Linked DNA regions of Homo sapiens: region 1 is linked to region 2. The links come from fine-mapping of genetic effects on gene expression. A gene starts in region 2. The other region holds a variant in brackets. All regions are shown on one strand. Distances are from middle to middle. Region 1 overlaps DENND1B (DENN domain containing 1B). Region 2 holds the start of DENND1B (DENN domain containing 1B).

Region 1 (16,538 bases), 44 kb after region 2:
TTCTTTACCTTTTTCAAGTTTTTGCTCATTGTCAGTGAGTCTCACTTTAACCAACTTAACAGAATTAAAATCGCACTCTCCTTCCTTTTGCGCTCATAATTAGGTTATATGCCTGCCCAGCCCCAAATCAAACACAAGTTCAGGGCTGTAGTGATTGTCTTTGCTGATGCAAAATTATATTTGATAGTGCAAAATTTTCATAGGGTAACTGAAAGGAACTGTTAAGAATATCTTAGCACATTACATATTCTAATTTAGAGGTAAAGGTCTGATTTCTTAGAAATTGGTGGAAGCATTTTAAGACTCAATTATGTTTTATTAAGATGAAATCATTTGCTTATTTTCCATCTGTATATCTTCTTTGGTGAAATGTCTGTTCAGCTCTTTCTCTTATATTTTCTTTATTGGGTTGGTTTCTTATTACTGAGTTTTGAAAGATTTTAATATATCCAGGATACAATGACTTTGTTGGATTTGCATTTTTTTCTCCCATCTGTATTTTGTCTTTTCATGCTTTTAACTAACATTGTCTTTCACAGAGAATAGTCCTTTCTTTTGATCAGTTTATCAGTTTTGTTTTTATTTTCATTTAGAGTTCATTTAGATTTTCATTTCCTTTTGATTTCTTCTTTGACCGTTGGGTTATTTAGAAGTATGTTATTTAAGTTACAAATATTTGGGGATTTTCCTGTGATGTTTCTGTTATATTTTGATAATGTAATTCCAGAGAATATCATGGTATGGCTTGAATCCTTTTAAATCAGTTAGGACTTGCTTTATGGTGCATTATATGATTTCTTCTCGTATATGTCCCATATGCACTTAAGGTTTTGTTTTAGATTACAGTTAAGTTATTTGGAAACAGTTTGAACATTTGAGGCTTGCTTTTAAGCTTTGGTAGGTGAAACCAGAGTCATCTTCAGTCCAGTGCTGATTTTGTCCCACTGCTAAGGTGTTACCCTCTGAGTACTGTACAGGATACTCTTGTTGATTATGAGGTTTTCCCACTCTGGGTGGTGTGAATGTCAGCTGATCCTGGGATTTCCCCCCCATTTCTTTTGGGTGATTCTTTCCTCAGTGTCTGGTAGTTTCCTCATATGTGTGCACTGATCATCAGCACTAAAGTCTTGGGTGGGTTGGTGGTGAACCTTCTGCAGCTCTCCAGAGCTCTATTCCTGTGCAGCTTCGTCTCTGTTCTCTTTGTGGAGTCTAGATGCTTTGGCCTTCCAACCTCATCTCAGGAAGACCACTGGGCTCTGCCTGGGTTTCTCCCACCTTGTGCCACATCCTGGAAACTCCAGATATTAAGACCAATTGTAAGGCTTACCTTGTTTGTTTTATCTCTGTCAGGGATCACTGTCCTGCATTTACTAATGTCTGAAAATTGTTTAATGTATTTTTTTAGATTTTTAGTTGTTAGAGAGAGAGCAAATACAGTTTGTACTTTCTCTTGGCTGGAAGCAGATGTCCTGTTTATGGATGTAAAAGTGCTGCTTTAACATTCTGCATCTATGGTTAGAAGAAAAGCTATGGTAACTAAGTACATGGGTAAATAATGTTTGGGAATATAGTTACCATGGAAGTTCTGAGGATCTTCTGTCATCTTTCTGCCAAAAAGTGATTCTGCATCAGCATCTTCCATGTTGTGTTTCACAGTTAATAACCCAAGTCTTCTATGAGAAAGAAACTGGCCAGATTAGGTCATGTGTTTGACTTATCAGCTCTGGCCTGAGGTCACATTCACCAATTGTGGATGCAACTACTGAAAACCCACCCTGGGTATAAGATGTAGTTCCCAGAAACGAGGGAATTGTTGTGACCTGGCTGTCATTCTCTATGTGGATTTAATGTTGATATTTTTTGGCTTTGAAAGGAAAATACTTCTATGTCTAAATGAGAAAAATAGCACCTTAAATTCAAAATTCAGCATTGGTTCAAAATCATTTGTCATGAAAGCTTCTTTTCCAGTTATAATATTAGATACTCCCCTTTGTCCTGTTATATAACAGAGGGTACTCATGCATGCTAATTCATACTGGATCAGTGACAGAGAGGAGAAGAAATGTAATAAACAGGTGTCAGAGAAATCTGTGTAAATACAGTTGAAGGGGAAAGTAAATAGGGACAATAAATTATAGGAAATTAGGAGGCAATCAAAACCTGCGGGAAGAAAATGAGCTGGGTTATCTGCTTCCAGGTCAGATATCTATGTTACCCTCTCCTTTCTAATAAAATTTCAGCATAATACTGGAAATTTTATCTTAGAACTAAGTAATGCTTTATTTCCTCAAGGTGATTGGAAAACACAGTTCTACCAGACTAAAGGGAGATGTGTATTGTAACTCAACAGGAAGACATAGCTTTACTTGTTTTTCTTTTTTTGAAGCAGAATTCTAAGTATTTATTTTTAAATTCACCAATTTTTACATAATTAGAATCTTGAGGCTTCCCTACCTGTAGTAAATTAGATCCTGGATACCTATGTGAATGTTTTTCTTGTCTAGCTAAGAAAAGGCCTAAAAATGAATAAGAATCATTGTTGCATTCTCACCGTAATGATTAAGTAGGAGAATCTCCTATAATGCTTAGTAGATAGAGGCAAACAAGTCTAATAGAGTGCAAAAAATCTCCTTGTTTTCAGGGGCCTGTGGAGTTTTGTCATACCTCCAAGATGGAATGTTTAATGTTGCTAGACAGATGTCCACAAGTGTTTAGAAAGAGCTGCTATTCAGTGTTTGTCAGTATGTGATTTAGAGCTATAGATGATTTATTGAGAAGTCAGGATCCTGGGACATACTTTGATTATTTTAAGGATGGAGGTGGGAGTGTAATCTACATTTTGGAAAAAGTTTCCCAGGTGATTGTTATGCATCTGAAAGTTTGAAGCCATTGTCTAAAGGAATAGGGCTATGGTGGTGCTTAGATCCAACCACTTCGACATAGGGCAGATGATTTTCCCACTATTCTGTTGGAGATGTTGCTGTCAGGTTTATTGGTGTGCTGCCTTATAGCTGATTGTAGGAAAGGAGCAGTGTCTCTGATATGCCCTATGTGTGCAATTGGAAGAACTGGGATAGAGTTAGGAATGGATGAGGGCTTATCAAAGATGAAGTATGATTTAGACTCAGAATAGGCTTTTTTATGTGCAATTAGTCAGTCTTCAGTGATTTTCAAGAGACATAGCAATAGTTTTGATGTCTTGCATAAATGCTAGTATTGAGAAATCTCATTTATGAAGTAGTCTCAAAGAGACATTCAAAAGAATAGATGCTTGGGTGTGTACTCAGCAGTCGCAAATAAAAAGGAAGCTGTTTTCAGAATGAGTGGTATAACAAAAATCTGAATAGCAGTCTAAGAGAAAGGCAAGCAAGATCAGTAGAGCCTTGGGGCTAATGAATAGACATTCCAGTACAACAGGAATGCAGTATGGGCATTTGTAAGGAAAGGTTACAGTAACAAATTTATCACAGATTATCTCAGGGATGATTTTTATGACATACATAGAATTTATTATTTTAATTTAAAACATAAGAGGCTGTGCATGGTGGCTCACACCTCTAATCCTAGTGCTTTGTGAGGCCAAGGTGTGAGGATTGCTTCAGGCCAGGAATTCAAGACCAGTTTGGACAACATAGTGAGACCCTGTCTGTACAAATTATTATTATTTTTTAATTAGCTGGGTGTGGTGGCACACGCCTGTAGTCTTAGCTATTTGGGAGGCTGAGGCAGCCTCAACTGAGGCTGCAGTAAGCTATGATTGTGCCTCTGTACTCCAACCTGAGCAAGAGAGCAAGATCCTGTCTCGATAGATAGATAGATAGAGAGACAGACAGACAGGTAGAAAGAATTGGGCAAACCATTTAATCCCAAGTCTCAAAATGAGTAGATCTTATGTTATCTCTGACTCAAAATTTTTGCTATTCAAGTTCAATAAAAGTTGGAATCTGCAGCTTAAAATTGAGCTTGAAATCAAAAGAGTGGGTTGTTTTGCAGTATTCCAACCTATATTTTCTTTTTTTTTTTTTAAGTCCAATATTTATTTAAAAATCTAATCTGCCAGTTTAGCGTTTTCCACCAACTCGAGAACTGAAACTTTCACGGGCTTCACAATCATTTACTTAGGTGCTGCCTTTGTAGGTGCCTTAACAGCAGCCATTGCAGTGTTTTTAGATACTTTGCTTAGCCTTTTTTGCTTCCTTAGCAGCCCTGATACCTTGTTCTCGTTGAGCCTTTCTAACTTCAGGTTTCTGATTCCTCTTGGCCATTATATCAGCAGGAGAGGCACCTGTAATAGCCCCCTGCAATTTGACTGCTCGGCAAGTTCTTTTCTTTTGAATTTCTTCCAATTGTCCCTTTTTGTGCTTCTTTCTGTAGAGGACAGTCCAGCTTATCTGCCGAGGATTCCCCCTGGAAAAGTACGCCGATTCGCATTTTGCATTAAGAAACTGGAAAACTTTCCTGTCGGTCCTGGCGTAGCGCCTCCCGTGTCCGGGGTAGACCTTGTACCGGCTGAAACCGCATAGCTCGACCTTCATGGCGGCAGCTCCACGGGAGGAGAAAAGATGGCCCCAACCTGTATTTTCGAGTAATACCCTTTAGAATTCATAAAAGTCTAAGAACACTTTGTAAATGGAATGTTTCATAGTTCACACTAAAGTAAACATAAACTGTTAAGCAAAACTTTAGATCACTTCTTCTAACAAAGGAAATGTACCCGAGAACCCATGAGAAGTAGCTTCAGAGTATTTTTTTTTAACAGTGAATTCTCTGAGGTCTTGGACTTTTAAATTTTATTTAGTTTAATTGCCAAAAGCCAAGGTGGAGCTGTGTAGCATTCTGAGGAAATAAAACCACTTGAAGCAGAGGTATAGTAGAATAAAGCCATTCTGCCTCCAGTATTTGGGTGGATGTATTTGGTACTGTAATCATTTTACAGATTGCTAATTCATTGATGTAAAAGATACTCAATGGTAGGCATGTTGGACCCATTCAATATTGTTTTTTGTACCTTTCTGTTAACTTTTGTATTATTCATATATAATATAGATTTAACCAAATCTATTTTCTTAAAATTGCATATTATTGTTTTATGAAATGTTCTTTTAAATTTTGTTAAAATTTTGTCCGCTTTTTCTACAGAAGTAGGAATGAAATATTTAACATTTTCTGCCAGTTCTTACTTATCCACTGTGTTCCAGAGTCTTTAATTTAAATATTTTTGTTTGCCAGGCTTAGATTTTCATGTGTCTATTAAAAGAGTAGGAACATACTCCTCCATGCCAGACATCTGCTATGTATAAGCATTGATTATTTTCCCCCTTATGAATAAATGTATTTCTTTTGTTAAGTTTGTTGTAGGTTAAAAAAAAAGCATATTTATGTTTCTCCTAAAATTTGGGAAATCAATTTATATTACTCTATGGAGTATGTAACAAATGATGTATTCTTTAATTCTGAATCCTGTATACAGTAGTTACACCCTTATCTTTCATTAATTGCTGTCTGTTTGTAGGGTTTTGAACTATTCTGATTATTTTGCAAAGTTTTTTTTTTTAAATTACGAATGTAATGTATTGCAGTCAATTTTGAAAGAAGGAAAAAGATTTTTCTTTTTATACCAATAACACAAAACATCTATTTTTGTGTATTCCTTTTTAGATTTCAATATGAGCTTATTAAATGTGGTTGTAATCATATATAGTTTTCACTTAATTTTCAATATTTGTTGTTGCTATTGGTTTAAATTACAAAATATTTCATAAACTGCAGCAGTCCCCAAAGCCCCTTGTAAATATTCATGAACTCAACCATAACTTAATATACTTGAGAGAATTATCTTTCACTACCATCATATGACTGAATTTAAATTTATCTAATGTGTTTAACTTTTTACAGGTTAAAAAATTTACAGATAGTTTTTATAAGAATGGTTTGGTTTATATACTCTTTTCATTTCTAAGTTTTAATCAGTTATCTACTTTTTAGTTTACTGTTTCTCTTCTGTTCAATATTTTAAAACTTATTCAGGAATATGAAAAGATATGACAGTTTTATTTTGACTTCTGCATTTTGATTGGGTCCTTCAGTGAAAAATACAGTAGCAGAATTTCTAATGATAAATATTTAATGTAAATACTGCAAATAAAATATAATTTCTTGTAATTTTTTGAATGTATCTTTTAGTTGCACAGATTTTTAAATGCAAGAGATTAGAATATCATAAATAAGCCTGTGTATTATTTTAAGAGCACGTATAGAGGAAGGGGTTGTATGTTGGTAAAATACATTTACTGACCCATGTGTGAATTGGTGACCAGGATTGTTAAAGCATTGAGTTCTAAAAGTTTTTCTCTTATCTTTATGTTCAACAATAGAAAGTTTTACCGTATGGTCAAATAACATCTTCATCAGGTTCTCAACAGGATACCTTAGTTAATTTTCAGCTGAGTGCTTGACAGGATTTTCTCTTTGGCTAGCTGGTTGGATGAGAGTCTAGACACTGAGAGGCCAGGCTTTCGTGGGGCCTCACAATATCATTATTGTGCATGTTGAGTAGGAGCAGCTTCCTCTGATGTAGGGGCTCCATGCCCAAACAACGAAGACAAAGACAGAGCTTTTGTTCTCGAAGAGAAGAGCTAATCCGACTGCTGCACACTGTGAAAAACCTTTTATGAGAGAGGAAAAAAAACTTTCCTGGAAGGTGAAGGGTTAGCAGTTTAACCTCTGACCGTAAAATAAGCTGGTAAGGGGGAAAAAGTGTTGGGTAAGGTAGAAGAATAACAGGAGAAACATTCATCAAGGTTTGTATGCTGTGTTTATAAAAACAGGTTAAGCAAATAACTGTCAGGGGTGGATACTTGAGGTCTAATAATACATGCATATTTCTAATTTTTTTTTGT[G/A]CTTATTCTTAAACATAGGTGTTTAAACTTCATAATTTGAAGAGTGTATATTGCAGACCACACTATAAATGCAGGAAACAGTAGATGTCTAGTATTTACTCTTTTTCCTAAAAAGCTCCATTATAGACTTCTGTCAAGTTCTGAATATTTATTTTCTTGTTGTGTGAGTACAAAATCTTGATCCTTTTTCTTCATTGTTTTTTTCCCCAATTTCCTTGTTTAATATGATCATGTTTGTCTATAGAAATAAAGAAGTAGGACACTGCATATCTGCGGTACATAATTAAGACTCTTTCCAATTTGGTATTTGGCATTTTGATACCTATTCTGTTGATACATAGGTCTGGTGGGCAGTGTTATTATACAACTCCTTGGAGGAGATGGTTGCATCTTAGTGTACAAAGAATCCGGAGGCTCTGTCTGATCTTATATTGGCATTGTCAATACCAAGAATGTAGTTACAGTCCATTTAGAGGTGATGGAAGTTAAGTTGCTAGTAACTGTGTCATCTGTCTGCTTTTATTTACCAACCTGGACTAATTGCTTCTCCTCTTGTCAGTCACATATCAATCTTGAGCAATAATTAAGGTTTTATGCACTTGGGCTTCTTGCTTGGATGTATTAATGTATGTAACTTATTCCTGAGAATAACTATGCATATGGGGAAGCAGCAGCTTATATTGTATTATTTGAGTCATATTCTAAGGATCAGTCTGCCATGGTGTCTTTTAACTAACTTAATGTTTCTTCTATTATTCCGATTCCCTTTGGTAACAATACACATTTCTTCCTGTAGTTACCCAGTTTCACTTTTACCATGACAGAAAATGAGGAAAGGAGATAGAGAAGGTGACAGAGAGGAGAGATTGTGCTGGCCATTGAGTGATAATGAGGTAAGGGCAAAGAGATAAGTATAGAAAATAGAAGTTGAGAGTGAGTTGAAGGAAAGAAGAACACGTGAAACACATAGGTGGGCCAGTTAGGAATGGGTGGTGAGCTGTTGTGCAGCACTCTTAAGTTTTGAACTAATAATTAGTTGACCATAAATGTAAAAATTTCTTAAGGAATTACTCTTTTAAGACAGAAGTATAGAAGGATGGCATTACAAAACAAGTGACCAGACTTGGGAAGGTCCTGGGTGAGGGGAGGTAAATTTATATGAAGAGAAAGAAAGAGCCAGTAATAACCTACCATTTTGCTTAATGCATTACCTCTGTTCACTATGGTCAAATTTCTGCATCAGTATCTCAGCATTTTTTCCATCTCGCCTTACAATGATGAATAAAGTGATAGCGAATAGTGATAGTGAATGCATATAATGATATAGTGAATATATGTAATCTCCACTCATCCTATCAACATCTCTCAAGGTGGGTACTGCTATTATCACTACTTTACATTGGAGAAAAGTGAGGCACAGAGTGCTGTGTAGCTTGAGAAAGATCATGTATAGCAAGCTTGTCCAACCTATGGCCTGCAGGCTGCATGTGGCCAGGACAGCTTTGAATGTGGCCAAAAAATTCATAAACTTTCTTACAGCATTTTAAAAGTTTTTCCTTTTTTTTGCTCATCAGCTATTTTTAGTATATTTTATGTGGGGCCTGAGATGATTCTCCTTCTTCCACTGTGGCCCAGGGAAGCCAAAAGATTGGACGCCCCTGGTGTATAATGAGTGAATGACAATGCATGGCATGTCTATATGAAGTTTGACTTCAGTATCCAGCCACGTAACTACCATGCCGTGAATGCTTTAAGAATTCACTGAAGATATAATTATATACTACTGAAAGTTTTAGACTTCAAATGATAATCCCCCAACTCTTTTATTGTTTTACTTCCTTACTACTTTTTTTTAGGACAACCTAAATGGGAATTAATTGCTCACTTTCCTAGAGGATAGACTAGTATTAGAATATACAACAAATATAAGCATATTTTTGGTCTGAGGTCATGAATTTCAAATTTATTCTTTTTCTTTCAGTTTGTTTTCCTGCTATAGTTTCTCAGCCAATAATTATTTTTCTAAATGTGTGATTCTGTTTGTTGTTCCAAAGGACATAATTCTTCTCTTTATGAGTTCTTTGCTAATCTGTTTTAATCCTTTTGGATGTCTCATTTTCTCATTGTTTCTTACAAGTTGTGATGTAAATACTCTCAAGAAGTTACCAGAATAAAGTAGTGTCTGCTATTCCTCGAAACTTTCTAGTAGCCAGTATCCTCCCAGATTTCAGTTGTCCTTTATGTTGAATCATGAAGTTGTCATATGGTAATATCAACATTATGGGCTCTAGTAAGCTAATTTTTAAAGTGATCAACCCTATTCTGAGATTGTATTTTCTTTTGATAGTGTGCCTATAAAATTCAGACATCTCAAAAATGTCAAATAATATACATATATAATTTATATATGTACCAATTCTGATTAAACAACTTGTGTCTAACTTATTTTTTTAAAAGTTCTTAAGGTCAAGGAAACAGGTTTAATAATGTCCATGTTCATTTTCTTTTAAAATGTTAACCTTAGAATCTGCAAAATTAGGATTAATTTTCCTGCATTTAGTGTGGCACATTTGAAAAAAATTAGATAAAAACTATTTTCAGTCTAAAAGCCACCGTAACAGATTAAAAAATTCAAGTAGCCCTTTACTTTAAACATGTGATTAACCGTAAAGAATTTTTTCTTTTCCAATTTAAGTTCCCATGTCATAATACAGAGATAAAAAATAATGGCCCCCTGACACACCTTATTTGGCTCACATGGTATTCATGAAATGTTTAATTATTTTTCCCAACTTAAAAATTAGGTGATTTTGTTTTCATAAATATTCTGGATTTTCTTGAAAAATCAAAAGTATCTGTCAACACTGGGCCCACATTCCACATGGATGGAGCTGAATAATGGTTGCTTTTTTGGGAAGGGGAATGGGATCTATTTTTTACTACATGTCCTTTTATAGTCTGTCTTTTGTAGGCTCACTCTACTCATTTTTATTACCTATATATCCTAAAGGCATTTAACCTTGAAATCTCCCCTTTGTCTTTTCTACCTGTAAAAAGGGACTATATTTGTGTAATATATAAGGTATAAATAATTATACCTTGACTTTTTCTCAGGTTTTAAAGAAAATCTTAATTAGAAAACAAGTTTTATACCATACATAAAAACATTATTTTAATCTGTTTTTAAAATTCTTTGTGATATACCTCTGGCTCTCAAAGTGTAGTCTAGGGGTCTGTGGCGGTTCCCTGGAGTACTTCAGGAGTTCTGTGAGGTCAGAACTTTTTTCGTAGTAGTGAGGCATTATTAGCCTTTTTCGTTCCCATTTCTCACAAGTATATGGTAGATTTTTGCATAGGCTTCAGGACATGATGAAGTTATAACTCTGATGACTAATGAAGTGTGTACTTGAAGATTTTTGTGCTTTACTAATTTTTAAGTTTTGATTTTTAATACATAAATGTCATTTACTATAACTCACCTAAACAAAAGTTCTTTGACGACCTCAGTGATATTTGAGAGAATAAATCAGTCCTGAGACCAAAAAGCTTGAGAGGTACTGTGCTGTACATTATGGGGGCTAACTAAAAACACGTCAGTGGCAAATGCCCAAGGATAATTTGTATAATTACTATTTATTCTACATGATTACTATTTAATTGCCTATTTCTTTCTTGAAGTATGGGGCTTTCTTAATTAGTAATAGCTTTACTCTGCTCATTTGCTTGTTATCTTTAGTGAAAATATGTAGTGAAAATAAGGGCAGATCACTTCCCTCTCTTTGGTGTTAAGGATTACTTGATTTATTATATTACCTTTAAATCAGAATTGATCAGGTTTATGTTAGGGTAAGCCAGCTACTTGTTAAAATAAGCACATTAAAATAAGCAAATAAAGTTTATGACATTTACTGTGAAAAATTGATATGATAGGGAATAATTTTATTTGCATTATATATATCCATTGAATGGAAAGAATGGAAAATATACTCAATAAAAAACTGAAAAAGCTGCCTTTATGAAGTGTACATTAAAATTTGAAACATGATTCTGGCTTTTAGGAGCTTTGTTTAAATGAGGAGACACAAATAAGATGGTTTGGTAGCGATGGTTATTGTCTGGAAGTGGGATAGTCTGTGTGGTTGTAGTATTTTGGGAAGGTCTCATAGCATAGATCAGGAATAATGTATTGATTTTAGAGAGACAGAGAAAAGTGAACATAGGATTTCAGAAGGGGGTGCAGCATGTGTTGGAGTATAAGTAAATCCTTGAAATTGGGAATAAATTTTATTTATGTGAAAAGACACTGGGATTGAGTAGAAAATTTGCATTGGAGTTGGTGGGAAATACATTTAGATAGGTAGGATGGAATTGGGTAGGAAGTGCAGAATTTTGCAACACTGGTTTTAGTATATGGAGTTATGTTAAAATTTTAAAGTTCTATATGAGGCATTAAATATTAACACAGTTTGATGAGTTGGGTTTTGTTAAGCAGTAGTGAGCCACTGAATATTGTTCTGTGAAGGGAGGAATAATAAGAACTCTTAAGATTAATTTAGTGGCAGTGAGTTGAGAAGAGCTGAGTGGCAAGAAGACTAATTAGGCAATAAGAATTTAGAGTAAGATGAATATGGAAGAGGAGGAATGGATGACAACTGCATTTCGAAGAAATAACTAACATGGTTAGGCAGCTGATTAGACGTAGAGGATGAAGGCGTGTGAAGGCTGATTCTGAAACTTTTAGCATTGGTGTCTGGGTTCCATAGGTAGAGTGAGAGGGATATGATTCAGTGTTGGACACTAGTCAAGGGGATGTTGTAATCAAGTCATTGGGAAAATTGAATTTGAGATATAGAATTTTTGCTTCATTTATGCTTATGAATATCTACAAAAACACTTAGTTTTAGATATCACATTATATATTATGTTCTTGTTTTTAGTCCAGTTTAAAACAATATTTGAAACTTGAAAAATGGCAGAAGGTTTTTAAAAGGCTTGAGAAAAATTTCTTTACAGAAAGATTTGTGGCAGTAGTTTTCAACCAGAACAGCACATAAGAATCACCTGGGGAGTTTTTAAACAATTGTAGATGTGTCTAGAATGGTATTGGGTGGGGTGAAGGGTCACTTTTTAAAAATTTAAATGATCTTCCTTAGATAATCTAATGAACAGAAAGGGTTGAGAACTGCTATGTAGATATATAGGAAATAATTTGTGAACAATGGGAAATAGAATTTCAGTAAAAGTTTTTGAATTTGTTTTAAATTATATGTAGGGGCGATCCATTTTTTTTTTTCACAGCTCTTCAACAAGAGAGAAAAGAGTTAAATTATCTTCTGAGATATTTAGTTGGACATTGGGAAGAACTTTCAACTATTAGTTTACACTTTAGGAGGGAAGCTGGGAGATTTGGAGCAGTCCCTGTATATGTGTAGAATATAAAAGGATGTGTCTTTTTTTAGTGGAACATAAAGGAGCCTGCCATGTAGGGAGAGGAAACAAGGTCTCTTGTGATCCTTCTTACCGCTGATCTAAGATATATGGCAATTTTGTGTAATGTCACATGACAAATTATCTTTGTGAACTTGTGTTTGCTCTTGAATTCTGCTTAGTAGAATCCAGTCCAATTGGCCTCAAAATCAGATCACTGTTTTCTATTAGAAATACATAGCATTTTTAATATAATTCCCAGTAACTTGATAATTATATGTTTTCTTTTTCTTTTTCTTTTTTTTTTTTTGAGAAGGAGTCTCACTCTGTCTCCCAGGCTGGAGTGCAGTGGCGCGATCTTGGCTCACTGCAAGCTCCGCCTCCCGGGTTCACGCCATTTTCCTGCCTCAGCCTCCCAAGTAGCTGGGACTACAGGTGCCTGCCACCACGCCTGGCTCATTGTTTGTATTTTTAGTAGAGATGGGGTTTCACTGTGTTAGCCAGGATGGTCTCAATCTCCTGACCTCATGGTCCACCTTCCTTGCCCTCCCAAAGTGCTGGGATTACAGGTGTGAGCCACTGCGCCCGGCGCTAATTATGTTTTAAGAAAAATGGGTGAAAATTACTGTAGGACTTAATTATTAGTAAGCATGTTCAGACTAATAGTTTTCTGCCCCTTCAAGGAAATGATTCTTTTTGCCAGTATCACAGTGTTGTATTTACCAGTCATAATCTTGACCTCAAAGGTTAATGATATTTATCCATTATTAGTTTAAGGAAATTCTGGATATGATCAGGGAAGATTTTAGCAATAAAACAACATATTTAATTAGAAACAGAATAAAATATTCACATCTCTACTTTCATTTGCTTTTCATTCTACATCAACAGAGACCTGTGAACTGAAATGTAATAGCTATGTTGTGTTCATTTTATTATTATAGTTTTATGTTAACAAGTTTCTTAGTTTTTACTATGAACATTTGAAAGGTGTTCCCCACAAGTCCTTAGATTTCTCTAACATGAAGGTATAGATGACATCACATCACATTGATATTTAGAATCAGTTTTTTTCCAGCTTGATAACCTCTTGAGTACCTTCTGGGTCTCGATCCCATTTTGAGGTATTCATTCTCTTTTAGTATTTCTGTGGCCCTCCAGGGGTATCTCATAAGTACTGAGGAATTGCTTGTCTACCTCAACTACTATGCTTCATGCCTTTGCTCTTAATGTCTCACTGCGATTATTTCCATATCACTGATGCAATCATTTGTCTAGACCTTGTTTTAGTGCTTCACCTAGGATTATGCTTCTGACTTTGGTGGGTGCTGACAGTGATATTCACCCTCATCTTAGCCCATTGTTTGAAGTATATCCTATTTCATTATTGCTGCACTTGGCTCCTGGACTGCCATTCATAATGATGTTGCTAGTCACAGGTCTTTGCAGTTTTAATGTCATGTGATCCTTCACAGCCTGGGTTGCGGTTCTGCAAAGTGAGTAGGGAGGGCTTCTCATCATCTATGTTGAAGTTCTGCAGATCTAGAACTCATTTAGTTGTATAAAACACGATTCTTTTCTTTCCAGAGTATTTACATGCCAGCAAGATCACTGGGTCCACGTCAGGTTCATAAAACACCCACTATAATCTACTGGGAGAGTTTCCATTGGACTCTTGGACCCTTATTGCCCTTGCCATGAATTCTGTCTCAAGAGGGTAGATCATCTTGTAAATTTTATGTTATCTGCTTCCTTCCCTGATATTTTACCACAAATTGTCTATATATATGTGTATGTGTGTGTATATCCATATGTGTGTATATATATGTGTGTGTGTGTGTATATGTATATATATATATCTGAGTCATTCATATATATATGAATGATGTAAGTTCTTTTCCTAAGAGGTTCATTTTAAATATTATCTGTAGCATCATAACTGGGTTCATTATTTTATTACCTTTCAGTTTATACTCAACACAGAAGCCAGGGTGATCCTGTTAAAATATGTCAGAGCATGTCTCCTCTCTATTCAAATGCTGCTGTGGCTCCCTTTCCCAGAGTGTAAGCAGGTTCCTTTTTATCACTCTCAAGGCCCTTTATGTTCTGCTTGTTCCCCCTTAACTCTCTGACCTCACCTTGTCTCATTATTTTCATTTATCACTCTTTTAGATTTTTTTTCATATGAACAAATATAACTTTTTTTTTCAAGGCTATAGTCTTTTTCAGAGTTGTATAGTGTTTCATAGAATAATAATGGTATAATCATTTTCATATTGATGGGCATATAGGTTATCTTGCAAAACTTTGCTAATTGTAAACAGTGCTTCAGTAAACATTGTTTTATATATATGTTTGCATATAAGAAATATATAATTTCTTGCATTTTATAAAAAAGAATTTTTCTGTTACAATTTCTTTAGCTGCTCCTTTAGAAAGGGTCTATTCTTGGTAAATCTTTCAGTTTTGTCTTTCTGAAAATGTATTTATTTTCCCTACATTCCTGTTTGCACAGTTCTTAAGTTGTAGAGTATATTATTCCACTGTCTTCTGGCTTCCATTGCTGCTATTGAGAAGTCTGCTGTCGATGTAATAATGTATGTAGTTTTCTACTTACCTCTTTTCTCTCTAGGATGCTTTGAAAGGTATCCATATCTTTTTATACTTTGCAATTTCATTGTGATGTGTCTAGTCATGTCTGTCTTGAGATCTTGCTTAGGTTTGTTGTCATTTCCAAATCTAAAGATGTGTCTTTTATCAGTTTTGGAAAATCAGCCTTTATTTCTTCTAATATTATTTTCTTCCCTCTTCCATTATACACAGTCTGGTATCTTTGGTCTGATCTTTTAGAAATTTAAATAGATTTATTTTATTCTGGTCTCCATTTTTCTTAACCTCTTTTCTCATTTATTTTGCCTCTTTATGGCTCAATCTGTTTTAATATCATTTGTGTCTGACTTAGTTCACTATTTCTGTCTTCAGTTTTATAAGATATGCTGTTCTATTCATTGAGCTTTTAATTTCATAGATTATATTTTTATATTTTTAAAAGTTCTAGTTTTCAAAATTTGCTAGTTCATGTTTTGAGTTATGTTATTGTATAACATTTTAAATATCCTTACAATATATGCTGTTTCAGGTAATTTTAATATCTGAAGCCTGTGTGGGAGGAACAAAAAAAATTAGTATCTTAATTCCATTCTTTGTGTCTGATGGTTATAATCACAGGTGTTTAGATTTTCTGTAGTAATTTTGAATTACCCATTTATGTTAGGCAAGACCTGAGTTGATCAAGTGTTTCTTCTTCAAGAGGGCATTTGTACTTTCCTTTTGTCATGTGCCTGAGGTGCCATCTCTTTAGGGTGACAGGATCCATTCCTAGGCTTTGTAGATACAAAGATAAATAAGAGTTATTGCATTTACAGTAAGTTTCTTAGTGACTTTATTATATTCATTAGAATCTTAAATTTATTCTACATTTACTTTTATTGTAACTTGAAAATATCCTGAAAGAAAGGTCATGCATGGTTTAATTTGGTTCTTTGATGTTTTGTTTTAATGTATTTTTCATTTTAAAATTAATTTTAAAATATTTTTAGCAGTTATTCTTAATGTAGCTTACACATGTTTTTATGTTAGTGAACTTTAAGTCATTTTTGTAGTTAGTATGATTCTATTCATGAATTTTAGCTTATTCTCAAGTCATTGGAACTGTGTCTGTTATATCCAGGAGTATTAGAAGTTTACTGTACTTCAGACCATCTTTATATCAAGCAAGAAAGCTTTGAAGCATTTGCACATCTACCCAAAATTACTTTTTGGTGTAATATGAACATGATTTTAAATGCCATGAATAAAATGAAGCTGTTTTATGAGCAGTTCAGTTAATTTTACATTCTGAAGTTTCACATTAAGACTGTTTCTTGACAATATTTTACTTCAAAGAGTTAAGTATAATGAGTGTTGTGAATAAAAATATATGTCTTCTTTTATTTAACCATATACTTGCTTTTTTATAATTCTTATAATTATAAAAATTATAAAGAATTATAACAAACAACAGTCTCATGCTAACTTAAAGCATGGCCTCTTACCTTCTTTCCTCCTTAAAGGAATCATAATAAAAGCTATTGCTTTAGGATATGATCTTAAAGCAACTTTAAGATCTTAGCTGACTCAAAGGTATATTAGGTTCTGTATGACAGATCATCT
Region 2 (16,538 bases):
ATAAATGCCTTTTTTGTTGTTGTTGAGACAGAGTCTTGCTCTGCTCCCAGGCTGGAGCACAGTGGCATGATTTCTTCCTGCAGCCTGCACCTCCCAGGTTCAAGCGATTCTCCTGCCTCAGCCTCCAGAGTAGCTGGGACAACAGGCCCATGCCACCGTGCCCGGCTAAGTTTTATATTTTTACTAGAGATAGGATTTCACTATGTTGGCCAGGCTGGTCTAGAACTCCTGACCTCAAGTGATCTGCCCACCTCAGCCTCCCAAACTGTTGGGATTACAGGCATGAGCCACCATGCCCAGCCCATAAATGCCTTTTTTAATCCTCCAACTTGTACAAAAAACTGTTAAAGAAAGGTATGATTACAGAAGTGTTTAGTGTGGCTTATAATTCATATTTAAAGATATCAACAAGGTATCACCTTGACTGAGGATTTTAAAAAAATACGATATTAACAAGGGAGATGACATATGATAATAAATGTTTCTGAATTGAAATATAGACTCACTTGAGCTTTGCTCGCTTTTGATTTGAGAGAGAGAAAGCAAGAGTGAGTGAGTGAGGAGAGATGCATATGTGCTTTATGAAGAAAATGGCTTTTGTAAATGACTCAGTAGTATGCAGACTGACTTTTATTTCCTGGTGCCTCTGGCAGACATGGGAAAGTGCATTCTTCCACACAGGCGTTCTTGGAATAAAATGTCCCTGTAGAGTTAGCTTCCTGCTTCATCATTTATAGTACCTGTTTTACCTCCTAATCTATACCTCACAGAACTATTGAGAGGCCTAGCTAATAAAAAATGGTCATAAAGCACTTGGCAAAATCACAACAACTATAAAAAAGAATAAATGCAAATGTGGTAAAGCTTGTCTTTCTGGTATGTCCATGAAGTCTTTGTGCATGAAATGATACAGTGACTCAAATGTTAAAGTTTTTTTTTCTTTCACAAACTGGGAGTAGTTAAGCCAGCTGGTTTGCTGGAGTGAGTTGTTTCTAGCTCAATAGTAGGCCACTTGATTTAAAACCTTCCTACTAATTCTAATATTAAGCCTATCCTCATGAATTCCTGCATACATTATGTAATAATTAATGCCTGCTTATTTAAAGAGGAAGTACAACATGTTTGTGTCAAAAATCAGATAGGCATATAAATGGGTTGTGTAGTAATCAATGGCTGTACCTACATCATCACAGAATCTGAATTAGCAGCACCTATTTGGTAGTTTTATTAAGTAACCATAGGGAGAACACAGTATAATTACTATGCACAGTATACATACTAATGTCATATGTTCCTGATCCACAACTCAGTCCAAGAGGGAAGTGAAGGGAAGGCCCAGGAAACAGCTGTGCAGCAGGCAGAAAGAAGTCACTACACACTGATGCAGTAATTTTATTAAGTCACTTGCATACAGTCAGGCAAATGGACAGGATCATGGGTCCAAATTCCTCCTTTCCATTCCAGCCAAGCCCAGCTGTCCTGATTGGCAGTCTCGAGAAGAAGGGAAGAAACTTCTGGAATTATGCACCGTGAATGAAGAAAGTCAGGTGAGACTGCATCCTTTTTACAAAGGAAACATATAAGTTCTCACCAAACTAAGAAGACGTTGATCAGTTTCACAGATCCTTCTTTCTGTTCCTTCTTTCCCAGAGAAGATTACAAGCAAAAATGGTCTTACCAGACCATTTTTTGGCAAGTCTTACTTGCCTAAGACTTGGGTCTGTGACATCAGAAACAACAGCAGAGAGAAAGATGATGTCCATACTTTTGAAGCCCAGAAGAACTCTCAGTCCTTGTTCATTTTTATCTTGTTATAATTTGCAATAGTAAGAGATGGGGAGAGTTTGTCATCTGTTTTGGAGTTACAAGTCTCTGTTTCATATGAACTTGTGCTGTGGAATTATACCATTTGACCTGGTATTTGACTGAGTTCTATTTGCTGGAATGTTGCACTTTTCCCCTTCTAGAATTGATCATATACAAATGCATGTAATGTTTGGCTAGTTATTTTCTCATATTTTAGGAAAGCAAAACTTGGCACACAGCAATTTGTTTTGATAATCTCTCTATTTACGTTAGGATTAGGGTTGCTTATGGGGCTGCTGATTTTGTTGAACTATTATCATCATGTTAGATGATCATTTATGTTTCCTTCCAGAAAATTCTAATGACATTGCTCATTGGATGTGATTACTCATTCTCCTGAGAGTGTTAAATGGGTGTGAGCAGAGCTGCCATACAAGGAAGACTGTATTTACGTGGAGTATCTTGTAGGTGGGGTTGGGAAATTATTTCCCATGCAATGCCACATGGTTACACAAACACAGCACTCTTTCTTGAAGTCCAAAGGAGAATCCTCAAAGAATCTCTGAAGAAAATTTGACTCCACTGATTACCATCTGTTGGTGACACTCTGCTTCAATTATTCTTTGTTCTGAACTCCAAGGACTGTTTTAAGTTCTACAATGTCTGGCAGATTGAGGAACAAAGATAAGGGAGAACAAGCAGAAACTGGTCAGAGGTAAGAAAATTTATTTACAATTTTTGGCAAATCACCTGAAAAAGGCAGAAGAAGATCTTTTGCTGTGCTGTATTATTTTTGAGAATTTTACTGTATTTTCTTACTAAAAGTTTAACAGCAAGATATACAAATATCATCATCGACCCATTGAATTTTAGAAATATTTGGATATGTTCAGATTTGGTAGTAAAGGTGTCAAAATTTATCTGAGTTCTTTTGTCCACAAACTGGAAGACAACATTTTTATTAAACTGGATTTTAAATCAACATAGAATGCTAACTCTATGAGCTTTGAGGTGTGAAACAACTCAGAAAGGCAAACTTTCAGGGAAGATATTGATCCCGAATCCCCACCTCCATCTTCTCTTTATTTTAAAAGTATTTCACATGTCTTGTTGAGGGAGATTTTACCTTCAGATTGAAATTCATGATATTGCTGCTAAGTATAAAAAGGACAACATGCCAGGAGGATGTTTTCCTTAACAACACTATCTCAGTCAATATTAAAAGGCAGGTCCTGATAAAATAATTTAAAGATAGTTTCCTAAGAGCTTCAATAAATTCAGTTTGTTAAATACTTTATAACTTTTCTTCTATAATAAATGAAGGTGGTAATACTATTAATAAATTTCACCTAAGAATAGTAATAAGAGGTTGTGCAGAGTTAGTCTAGGAAATGCCTGACTTGGATACATGTTAGCTACAACTCATGAGATGCTTGCCTCAAAAAATTCATTTCTAAGTTAATTGTTTGGAACTCAAAATCTTCATATACATTGGTGAGGCTTATGAGTCTAGTCGAGTTAATTTATACTGAACCTGAAGCATTATTAATAGTATTATTATTTTTAAAAATACCATTCTAGAGTTTACAATAGTGTTTATTATTTCGCATTCAGAAGGGAAAGGAGCTGTCAACTTTAGTAGTCCTGGGTATCAGTAACTCTTCACTTTTGTTTAAGGCATATTACTACAAGGATTCAATGAATAAGTGGTTGGGGTTGGGAAGCCAGGAGTTACCTTTCTAATTGTCATAGTACACTGGAAATCAGGGCAGTTGGCTCACTAAAAGCCCTGAACTTGGGTTTCTCTACACCATTAATATATAGGGATATATAAGTTGGGGACTTTTTGGACCTGGTTTGAGGAAAGTGGACCTTATTAGGTGGATTAAAAAGTTGCAATTAGTCCATTTTACATGACACTATAGTCAGAACCAAGTAATTATCCATTATAGTCTGATCAAAACTTGCATGAAAATCAACTAAAAATTCAGAATTAAGTATTTTTAAAAGCTTGCAATGCATTGAAGAGCAGGCAATCAAGTGAGAATACTTAGGGGTGGAGGATGGGGGACAAATAAAAGTAGCTACAAGAGCCACCTCTCTCTGTAATCCCAGCACTTTGGGAGGCCGAGGTGGGTGGATCACGAGGTCAAGAGATGGAGACCGTCCTGACCAACATGGTGAAACCCTGCCTCTACTAAAAATACAAAAATTAGCTAGGCGTGATGGCAGGTGCCTGTAGTTCCAGCTACTCGGGAGGCTGAGGCAGGAGAATTGCTTGAACCCAGGAGGTGGAGGTTGCAGTGAGCCAAGATCACGCCACTGCACTCCAGCCTGGCGACAGAGCGAGACTCCATCTCAAAAAAAAAAAAAAAAAGAAAAGCCACCTTTCATCTTCATCTTTAGGGTTTTTCCTAAGCTGGATGAACTGGAAGACCATGAACTGTTATCATGGTCTTATGGGTCTTCAGACCCTTCCTAATGTGGGAAATCCAACAGGATACTCTTCATAAAGCTGATACACCCCAAAGGTATTCAAGGACAATTGTCTCAAACAATGGAGCATAGTTAAGGGGAAAAAAGCTTCCCAGAGGATTCATAGCTACAAACCAGGTCTCACATGAATGGTCTGAAGAATTTCAAGCTGAGAATTTAGTGTTTATGTTTCTGAATTGCTAGTGATCCCAAGCATCTACCAGCAGTAAATTAATATCTTCTCCAGAGAACTCATTTTCATTTCAGCTGTCACTCAATTTCTATATATAAAGTTCTAAGGATCACATAACATAAAAAGAAATCACATACATAGAAGAAATCAAGAGACCATAAGTATGAACAAGTAGAAAAAAGATCAGTTAGTAGAAGCAGACCCACAAATGCTTCAGATATTGGAATTTTTAGAAATAGAATTTAAAGTATATATATTAAATATTTTTAATAAATTAAAGAGATGCTGAAAATATGAGTTAAGAGAATACAGATTTGGAAAATAACCAAACAGAACTTTAGAAATAAAAATAATATAAATTAAAAACTAAATGGGTGACTTTGACAGAAAATGAGACAAAGCTGAAGAAAGAATTAGTGAACAGAATATTTTTGAAATTTTCCAGAATACAGCGTAGACAGATAAAGAGAGACATACTATAAAAGAGATGTTTGACAAACATGGAGGGTAGAATAACACATGTGTTATCAGAGTCCCAGAAGGAATGGAAAGAAAGGAGTCCAGAATTTTCCAGAACTGATGAAAGTCACCAATCCAGAGTCAAGAAAATTAAAGAAACCAAGAAACATGGATGAATAAAAATCTACACCTAGATACTTCACAGTGAAACTATAGAAAACTAAAGACAAAAATGAAACATCATAAATGCAGTCAGAGAGAAAAAACAGATGACATTTTAAGATTACTTTCAAAGTTCCAATTGTTATTAGGGAACTTAGAAGACAGTGTAATGATATTGATAACATGCAGAAAGAAATAATAGTAAACTTTGAATTCTTCATCAGTGAAAATATTTTTCAAGAGTGAGGGATAAATAAATACATTCCAACTCAAACAAAAAGGGAAAGAATTTTAGGCAGAAGGAAAGTGATCCTACACAGAAGATCTAAAATGAAAATACAAAAGAATGGTAAAGTTCTGAGTAAATCTAAACAAACATGGACTGTATAAAACAACATTCATAATGCATTTTTGGGGGGATTTTAGTTTTGAGGGGGTTTTAGAGGTTCTTGTATTGTTTGAGAGAGGGTGGATATCCTTGTGAACTCTGGCTTTAATCAGTTAAAATGTACCTATTAAAATTTCTAGGATAACTCCTAAATGAATAGAAACAGAGTAAATAACTTCCAAACTAGAAGAGGTGGGGGCAGAAATGAAAGCATAAATAGTAATCCTAAAGAATGCAAAAGTGAAAGAAAAAAACAGATCAGAAGAAACAAACGGGAAGTACAAAATTAGATGGCAGAAATAGATTTAAATTTATCAGCATTTTTCTCTCTTTTTTTTTTTTAATTTTTTTTAGACAGTGTCTCACTCTGTCAACCAGGCTGCAATGCAGCGGCATGATCTTGGCTCACTGCAACCTCTGCCTCCCAGGTTCAAGTGATTCTGAAGCCTCAGCCTCCTTATTATCTGGGACTACAGGCTTGCACCACCCACCACACCCAGCTAATTTTTGTATTTTTAGCAGACAGGGTTTCACCAAGTTGGCCAGGCTGGTCTTGAACTCCTGGCCTCAACTAATCTACCCGCCTTAGCCTCCCAAAGTGATGGGATGACAGGCATGAGCCACTGCGCCCAGCCTAAATTTATCAACAGTTTTAATACATGCAAATTGTCTAGGGGTTTGATGTAAGAGCTAAAGATGATCAGACTAGATTAAAAATCAAGACTAAAAATTTTAGATAAATTTGAAACATGATGGTTTAGAAAGTTTGAATGTAAAAGGATGAAAAGAGATATCCTAACATCAGACAAATACTATTCAGAAGAAAACTGTTTAGAATCTAAGGCAAAAGTACGATTGGAGGTAAAGAAAGTAACAACATAATGATGAATGGTTGTATTTATTAGGTAGATATAGAAATTATAAACTGATGTGTATATTATTACACAGCCCCAAACTGTGTAAGGTAGAACCTGAAAGAACTATAGGCTGAAATAGAAAAATCTACCATCATGTTGGGATATTTAAACTCATCTCTCCCATTAATTGAATTATGTCAAGCAGATGCAAATTCAGTAATAGAAGATGTCAACAACACAATCATCGTATTTGATCATGGACATATATTTAGAACACTGTACCCCAAAGCTGCAGAATATATATTCTTTACAAACCACATACAACATTTAAGTCTTGAAACATTTAAAAAATTAACTAAATTAATTAATTAATAAGAAATTAATTAATAAATAAAGACCATGTTCTTTGACAACAATACAGACTATGTTCTTTGACTGGTATGGTCCTGAAAACTGTTAATATTAATTGTCGAGTAGGAAATATCATTGCTGAAATATGATCTTGGGAAGATTTAAGACTAATTTGAAGGTTTGCCCTTTGTACACTTCTCTATCAGTCATATGGGAAGTTCTATATGAAATGAGTATTACTAAAGTTATACCATCGATTTCATTAAAGCTATTACCAAGGTAAGTGTATGATATTTGTTTTCTAATTTTTTAACACCTCATGCATGTAGATCATGTACACCTATGTTCCTATCCCTTTTATTTCAGTAATAACAGAACAGATAAATCTCTTCATTATGGTCAGCCTAAAAGCTCACTTAAAAAGATTTGCTTTGGGATGCGAATGTGTAGTATTTCCCTCGATGTACTTAACATAAATGGAATGAAGAACAATTTTATACTGTTCAAGGGTATGACTGTCATTTAAAATAAAATCCCAACAATGGATGAGGAAAACAATTGTATTATTATCTCCTCACACCAAATTAAAAAGTCCTCAATATGGTCACCCCAAGTAGGGTTCCTTTCTTTGGAAATAATTAATTATAATGAAAGGAGAAGTTTGAGAAATTCAGTAACAGTTGGGGCAGAAGTGGCTTTTAGCTTACGAATTTTTTTTTTCAAGGCTTTGGAGTATGGTCACTTATGCAGAAAAATCTTTATTTGGGAAAAGAAAACTTATGTAGTATAGTTTGCCTAATTGTGAAACTGAAATTCACAGAATAATTTCTCAAAAGATAATACAAATTTGTAGCACCTGTTTTACTTGAACATCACACTGCTCATGTGATGTACAAGTAATAATTCCCATTTTACAAATGTAGGAACCGAGAAACTGAAGTGTCTCACCCCGAGTCAAGCTATGACAACACTTTATGATAAACACATTTTTTTTTTGTTTGTTTGTTTCCCAGTTATGGCCCGTCCTCATTTTTTACTAACAGGCCCATGGCTATACAATATTTCTGATCCTGTTGACCAAGTAGTACCCAATTTTGGCAAGAAAGTTTAAGGTTATATAACTGAGTGCAACTTCAGGTTCTCTGACTCTTGAGTTTTTTAATTCTTAAGACTCCTTTTCTGACTTTTATGTCTTATGACTCACACTACATTCATACCACATTTGGTTTCCTCTCATCATCTTAACTTCTGCATGAATAAAGTCTGAAGTAACCACCTTTTGGAAGAAACACTGTGGCTATGTGTCAAGGGTGGCAGTGTTAGCTGGGAGAAGGCCTTTCCCAGAAGATCTCTGTGTAAGAGCCTGGCCTTCCACAGTCATTTGAATGTCCATCATAAGACTTTTCTACCTGTCTTCTCAGTAGATCCTAAATATGAGACAGCAGAGGAGGGAGACAGGCAATATGAGGTAGAAGTAAATAATCAGCATCAGATAGACCTGGTGTGAACTCCAGCTTTGCCATTACTCCCTGGTTTCTTCATCTGTAAAATGCTGATGAAAGTATCTATCACACACCTATGACAAGTACTGGGTGAGAGTGCACATAACCTGCTTCACATGTGCTTTAGGGCTGTGTAAATCAGTCCCTCCCACGCTTATTCAGTGGTGCCCTCTCTGAACTCGCCTAAACTGCCAGACTATGAGGCCTGCGACTATGTACATGTGTTCAAAAGTTAGTCCTTGGTTATCACTGCAGTCTGTGGTATAGGAATGTCTGCCTCCCACATGCGCAGACAAGTGGGGCACTACCATTTGGCTACTTGACAGGGCTATTTAGCAGGTGCACATGTCTGAACATTCCTGAATCAGGAGGGGGTAGCTCTGGATTTCAGAGAGCTGTAAGCAGGCCACAGCTGGAGTGACGCAAGAGCCAGGGGCATCAACTTGAGCTCTGAATTTGTAGTATGAAATGAAAGGAACCCAAGTCCGTGTGTATGTGTGTGGAAAACACTGCAGGTCGAGGTACTTTTCCAGGTACTTCGCCCTTTGTGGGGTTGCAGCCCCGACGCCCTGGAATCTGGACTGGACCCAGAAAGGAAGCCGGTTTGGTTCATGCTGAGGACACAGGGGGCACCTTGCCTTTCTGGCTAGGTGGCAAAGCGGTACGTGGGCCATCCCAGCAGGCACTAGCGCTCCCCCTGCACCCTCTGGCCGCCCGGGCGCGGGGACCTGGCCCCCGCCTCCTCCACAGTCTCCGACTTGCGAGCCGCACGGCCCAGGTGAAGCCGCTGGGCGCGTCCCCGCGCGCCCCTTCCCCCTCCCGGCGACTTCCTGATTTGCAAGAAGGTGCAGGAGCCGCAGCGGGCGGCCCCGGTCGCAGGAACTGAGAGGCCTCAGCTTTGGTGGCGGCTACCGGCGGAGACGGGGGCGGCGGCCACGCCACCGCTGCTGTCACAGAAAGGCTCTGGTGGGTGGGGTGGGAGGCGGGGAAGTGCCGGGGGCGCAGCCGACATGGGCCCGCCGCCACGGCTGCTGTGAGCAGCCTCTTTCCCTGTGTGGCCGCCGGCGTGGGCGGGGACGGCGCGACCCTCGCGCGGCCGGGCTGCGGGCTTCCAGGCCAGCGCGCGGGGGCCGGACGGACAGCCCCACACCGACATGTAACCATGGACTGCAGGACCAAGTGAGTGGGGGGGCCCGGGCGCGTCGGGGGCGGGCGTCCCTCGGCGGCCCCTCCCAGGCCAGCTCGGCTCCTCCGCGCCTCCGCGCTCAACCGGCTCCCCGGGCGGCCGAGGTTGGCCGGGCGGGCTGGGGGTGCGGTCCGGCCCCCAAGCCTCTGGCCGGCCGGCGGGACGGCGCTAGGCCGCAAAGCCTGCCCGCCCTGCGTCCCCGGCCCTCCGTGGTTGGCGCGGCTCCTCCCGGAGAGGCCACTAGCGCCTTGTCGACGCCCGCCTTTCGGGGGACAGGGGAGGCCGGGCGGCCCCTGACACCGCCGCTGAGGGGTTCTCGTGCTTCCCCCGAGTGTGTCAGATGTGACTCTCCTGGGGCTGCCTGTGTGCGTGTGGTGTCCGGGAGGGAGTCAGCGTTGAGGTTAAGAGGTTATTATTCCGAGTGCTCTCTGAGCATTAAATATAACCGGTGTTTTCTTAAGTCCGTTTGTTACTTTTGTCTTGGATGTTTTCTTATGATTCTGCTTATAAAATTAGATTGGTCTCTGGTGTTTCTTTATGCAGCAACTGTAGATGCATGGTTCTTGCAAAACGGTATCCAATTAGAGGGTACTTTTATGTGTGTGCTAAAGTATTTATCAACGACTACTTTGCTCAGGAGATTAGGTAAAAAGCAATTTTAATAACGGTGGTGATTTTGTTTCTAGGTATCTTAGAGGCATGAGTTTTATATTTTTCTTCTGAAACTTAACTTTGGAAAGAATTCCTTTTTACTTCGCTTACCCACCCTTTACTATCTCCTTCTCAAAAAGTTTAAAATAATGCCATGTATATTTGTATTATTGTGAAAGGCCGTTTGAATTTCACAGAAGTAAAACTGAGTCAATATTTAACTTTTACACCTAAGAGAAATTCTAAAGAATATTAGGGAAAGAGGGAAATTATGTAATAGAATTATTTTCTTCAGTGTGTTTGACATCATGGTGGGCAGGGTAAGTGAGTAAAAATAGTATGCTTCTTGACATTAATTGTTTTAAGAGGGAGGAAGTCATCTGAGCCCAGATTATTCCCATTGAAACAAGTTAATAGCGGAAAGGCTAAAAAAATGTATATTTGCATGTTAATTTATATGTCTTGTCACTTCCTATGTTTCCAGATTCATATCTTATAAGAAAAGCTTCCAAAAAAAGAAATGCTTTTTTTTAAAGTCAGAGCTGGCATTCGTTTCTTGAAGGAAGTACATATTAAATACAGCCAATGTACAAAGGCACTAAGGTCTTGTTAGCAGGAATAACTGAGATATTAACACATTGGCCGTTGTGGTAACAGACTTAATCTTTTACCTTATGATGGAACGAGAGATTTAAACAGCAATGTTATGAAGAAAAAGTGTCTCAGTATATTTCAGTTCACTTTTTGAAATTTAACCAATGTTGCTTTGAAATTTTGCAAATATGGCAAGTTAGTAAAAAAGTCAATAACTTCTGAATTAAGCAAAGTAAACTTACAGTTTCTAGTGGGAAAATCTAACATGGAAGCAGATGGCTGGTTTCTCCAAAGATAATGGATAAAAAGAAGGCTTTTTATGTTGCTAGCCTTAGAGCTATGAATAGTTTGCTACTTTAAATATGCATAAGTACAGTAAATACATTTTAAGAAAAGTATATGCAACGTATCACATTCATGGAGCATTATCAATGTTTTATGGTGATCTAGAACTTGGCAGGTGGAACCATGTATTCATCATTTACACTTATATTGCAAGTCCTTTGGAGACAGCCTGAGAACCTGTGTCAAACTCTGTTGGCAGGGTATAATGACACTTAGGGACACTCTGGCTTTTAAATTTGATCCAATAAGATAAAACCAATACTTTGCATTTTTGTAGCACTTAGTACTTAATGAAGTACTTGCACATATGTTATTTGATTTATAATCCTCACTATTATTCTGTGAAGTGGACAAGGCACCTCATAGGTAAGGGAGAACAGTCTCAGCGTTTAAATGCTTTGCCCCAAGTTTCAGAATTCCTAAGTCTCAGCTCTTTTAAGTTGCTCAATTGAGAAAACAGTTTCATTGTTATTTCTACTATACTGTAGTAATACAGTCACGTGAAATGTATTGAGACAAAAACAAGATTAGTTTTAGAATTAAGAAAATACAAGTTTCATGGAGATGTTTATTTGTCATAGGAAATTAATTTAAACTTTTTCCTTTTAGGGCAAATCCAGACAGAACCTTTGACTTGGTGTTGAAAGTGAAATGTCATGCCTCTGAAAATGAAGGTATGTGTCTTCTGTGTTCTGTTATTTGACAAGGTCTCTTTTTTTTGGGACAAGATCTCATTCTGTTCCTCAGGCTGTGCAGTGGCATGATCAGGGCTCACCACAACCTCTCCTTCCCGGGTTCAGGTGATCCTCCCACCTCAGCCTCCCGAGTAGCTGGAGCTACCAATGCACACCACCATGCTCAGCTAATTTTTGTATATTTTTTTGTGGAGACAGGGTTCACCACGTTGCCCAGGCTGGTCTTGAACTCCTGGGCTCAAGTGATCCACCCACCTTGCCCTCCCAAATTGTTGGGATTACAGGCGTGAGCCACTGTGCCTGGCCTGTTCTGTTAATTCTTAAAATAATTGATTGAATCTGTCAAAGCAAGTGTTAATATTGTGGACTGCTGGAACATGGTAGTAATAGGAAAATAATACTACTAAATGTGTATTCTGCATTGAGTGTCTCAAGTTGCTGGTAATAAAATAGGTGTTAAGTCTTTGCCCTGGGATTGTAAAAATCATGAATGTTATCAGTGCAGCTTGAATTTCAGGTGTGTTGTTAAGCCCATATAACTTACAACTCAGCTTCACCATTCGTTGGTAAAGTTATCATTAGTTTTGGTGAAAGGGCGAATCTTTTCATTTTCTTTCATTTATGTTTGGAAATTTAGTGTCTTTTTTTAAACATTAGTGCACATTCTCCTGCTAGTACCAATGGAAACTACACCACTTCCCTTCTGATGTTTCCAGAACGCAGAATGCAGACTGAGTAGCCCCTTCTGTTGGATTTACTCCAATAGCACAGCACTTTTGCAGGGAGGTAAACGATAGTGTGAAATTACTTGGAAGGGTTTCAGCTGTCAGTTCCGTACAATTTCCTGAAAAGATGAGAGCATAATACTTTAATGTCATGATTTTCATCATTTCCCTCCACTTTTGTCATATTGTGTATTGTGCATATGTGTGGTAGGCGGCAGGGTTAGCAGACAAGAATAAGGAATTCTTTTCTTGCCTATTTTCTTTTAATGTGTTCTTGCATGGTATGTCTTTCTAGATACTTAAAGTATATGTCTTTACTTGCTGTGTGCTTAGACCCTGGATAGCATGATGATTAAGCATAGGGGTTTCGTGGAGACTGATTGGCCATCCTAAAGCCTTGGAGGAAAGTCTGCTGACAATTTTAGCTTCAGAAACTATCCAGCAATTACCTACTCTTAAGTAATTTGGAGCTGCACACCTTAAAATAGAGAAGCCCAACCCAGTTGTGGTGAAATGGGCATGGCTAATTTTAGTATGAAGTCACATATTGTTGGCTCCACCAGCCCTACTACTGTACTCCTGGTCTATCTGAACTGCAGCTGTGGTCAGGTTTGTCTATTGGCAAGGAGTGATCCTAGGTTGTAGGGAGCCTTTTCTAGTTGATGAAGTTATCTTTTATTGTCCTGTATGTAGTAAAGTTTGTCCATTTGCATTATTTTGAGCCCCAACCGGGTCCTCTTTGAAGAATGGATATATTAGGTAGAATGGATACTCAAATGGATACATTATGTTTTCAGCTCCAATTTAATTCTATTCTATAGTGGTTTATGATATAAGTTAATCTAAAAAATATCTACCACAACATTACCGAAGGTGCGTGAAGTAACGCTCATCTGATATTGCTTGTAAAGGCGTGGCACGGTGGCTCACGCCTATAATCCCAGCACTTTTGGAGGCCGAGGTGGACAGATCATCTGAGGCCAGGAGTTCGAGACCAGCCTGACCAATATGGTGAAACCCCATCTCTACTAAAAATACCAAAATTATGCAGGCATGGTGGCCTATGCCTGTGATCCCAGCTACTGGGGAGGCTGAGGCACGAGAATCAGTTGAACTGGGGTTGTGGAGGTTGCAGTGCGCCGAGATAGCACCACCACACTCCAGCCTTGGTGACCAAGTGAGACTCTGTCTCAAAAAAAAAAAAAAATCTATATAGATATATAGATATATTTATAGATACATATATTTATAGATATATATTTATAGATATATATTTATATATATTTATAGATATATATTTACATATATATTTATATATATATTTATAGATATATATTTATATATTTATAGATATATATTTATATATATTTATAGATATATATATTTATATATATTTATAGATATATATTTATATATTTATAGATATATATTTATAGATATGTATATTTATAGATATATATTTATAGATATATATTTATAGATATATATTTTTATATATATTTATAGATATATATACACACACACACACACAACAGGCTAATTTCACTTGGAAAATATGGATTCTCTAATTTTAAATGTGTATTAAAGTGATCTTGTTAAAAGATCAATTTGCCTTATATAACACCCAATCTATGCATGTGTCAGAGAGATTGTGGTCTTCTTATAAAGGCTTTTGAGTGGTTTACTCCCTTCTTCCTCTTTTTGCTCTTTTCCACTTTTCATGAGCTAGTTATTCCAGTTTGTATCTTCTACTTCTGCCCTGCTTTAATATTACACCTTGTCTTTTTGCTGTTGTTATTTAAATCACTACTTTTTAGAAACATCTTCATTTGTATTTTAACAGTTTATATCTAGCCTGGTAAAGTTGTAAATATGATAAATGGTTAAAGTAAATAATGTTGGCTTCTTTGTAGGTTGCAAATAATCCATTCTATATGGCTAAATGGCAGAAAATTCTAAAGATATTTTAAAAAACTAAACTCAGCCATGTAAGCAGCAGTAACCTTTCTTCTTTTATTATGACTTAAATAGTATGAATATGGCTAATATTTTAGGATCTAACAAGTAATAACTATAATCAGTAACTATAATAAATAACAAATGATAAATTAGTAGCTATAAATAATAAAATCAATAACTATAAGAGGGCTATAAAAGTAAATTTTTTTGCCAAATTGAGAGATTTATGTTTCTGTAATATTTTATCAATGTTCTACTTTACAGCTAAATCTTAAATAGAAAAATATATGAAAAATATTTTAAAAGTTATTGGAATCCTCATATTTAACTGTTAGTACCTATTTGTTTTAATGAGGCTCTGATATGTGCATTATCAGCTTGTTTAAGGTACGATAATTTTTTTTTTGCTAACATTAAATGATCATGGGTGAAATTCTTAAATAGTAATAGATTGGAAAACAAAATGTATAAATTAGGATGCTTTGGAGTACAAACATAAGATTGGTTTAAATAATAGAGAAACTAGAGAAACTTGATATAGTTCATACAAGAAGTCGTCAAACATCGATATAGTTCATACAAGAAGTCGTCAAACATCCAGGTGCTTTCTGCTTCTCATTTCTGCCACTCACAGTAATGGTGTCATTGGAGGGCTTAGATTTCTTGCGGTTATAAGACTGTCAGTGGAAGTTGGAACTCTGCTTTTTTGTTTGTGACTCTGGGGGTGACAGACACTGGCTTTACATGTCTCTATTTAGAGCCAGAAAGTTTCTTTTTTCAAATCCCCTAGAAAGCCTTTCCTTAGATCCTGGTAGCCTAAGTTGGCATGCACCTGACCACTCCTGAAATTATCATTGGTGGGGTAGAGGTAAAGGGGTTGGTGGCAAGACTATTGTGATTGATTTATTTAAATTGGCAATGAATAGATGTTGAGAAATCAATTAAAATGCTTTTGTTAAAGAACTTTTAGAATATATAATTTTTTGTTGACTGATCAAATAGAAAATGTATTTAGAGTAAATTTGGTTTATACTAAGATTGGTGACATTATGTTAAGGTATTTGGCATGCTTCTCTTGTTCATTTTTCATAGGTAAGTCTAAATGTTTTCATTTATCCTGAATAGCTTAGATAAGTATCTTCAGAGACAGGTTGTTAATTAAATTTTAGTTAACAGTGTGAAATGACATTAGCTTTTAAAATATAACTTGATAAAGCTCCTCTGGTAAGATTGTGATCTTTATCTGGTCTACTGCTATTTGGACTTGTTTCAGAGGCATTATATTGATTTTTTTTTTTTTGAGAACAACACATTTCAGAACATTCTGGAAAATAGCTTGTTAGTTTCATATGGAGTGCTCTACAAATCTAAAAAAATGCCATAAGAGGGGTTGGTAGTATTTCCCTATAGTGTCCCCTATGTGTTAGTAGAATTTGTTCTGGTGGTGTCTGACAGATTAGTTGTGGCATTTTTTTTTTTAATGGAGGTTTCCCTGGCAGAACAACCTCCCAGTAACTTCTGCTCCAGCTGTCCAAAAGTGAAGTGCCAAAATTTAGATCTTAATGCTCTTCCTGGTAGATCTCCAAGATAATTGCTAGTGTTCTTATTCTTTTTGTTGTCTGTCTTCCTTTTAGCAGGCAGGGAAGTACAGCCAGCAGTGATGGCCTCTCCTCAATTCTGTTAACAGAAGTCATTGTTACCATACTGTCCCCACCTTCCCCAAAGTGACTTAAGACTTCAGGGAAATGAAAAGTAACTTTTCGTCAATAAAAGATTGGGTATGCCTCTAAGCATTTCTCTTCTGGGAAGTGGCCTTGGTACTCTAGCTTTCTCTTTTTTAATTTTGTTGATAGTTTATTCCAAGTAGTAATAGTAGCAGTAGTAGTAGGAGGAGGAGGAGGAGGAGGAAAGGGAGGAGGAGGAGGAAGAGAAGGAGGAGGAGGAGCAGGAGGAAGAGGAGGAGGAGAAGGAGGAGGACGAGGAGGAGGACGACGAAGAGGAGGAGGAGGAAAAGGAGGTGGAGGAGCAGCAGCAGCAGCTGCAGCAGCTAATATGTTGTACTTATTCTGTGCTGGGCAAAATTCTGGATATTTTTCATGTACTATTTAAGCCTCACAAAAATCTTATGATATAGGAAATGCTTGTTTCCATTTGGCACATGAAGAAACTGAAGAACAGAGAAATGATGAA

Evidence for each region. PIP is the estimated chance that this variant, and not a neighbour inherited with it, causes the effect.
Region 1: its variant is fine-mapped to the expression of DENND1B in whole blood (INTERVAL, PIP 0.95).

Annotation. Positions count from the first base shown.
Region 1 is chr1:197,723,633-197,740,170 of GRCh38, reverse strand. All of the region lies in intron 2 of DENND1B (DENN domain containing 1B), which reads left to right. It also overlaps the pseudogene RPL24P5. Among named protein-coding and RNA genes, the nearest start is that of DENND1B, 44 kb to the left of the region's middle. The variant G/A (reference allele first, on the strand shown) is at 6,900.
Region 2 is chr1:197,767,973-197,784,510 of GRCh38, reverse strand. DENND1B (DENN domain containing 1B) reads left to right here and starts at 9,031. Exons shown (of 23, transcript NM_001195215.2): 1 at 9,031-9,372; 2 at 11,579-11,643. The coding sequence starts at 9,356. RefSeq lists an enhancer at 7,814-7,863 and silencers at 8,238-8,532, 8,824-9,023, 9,174-9,683.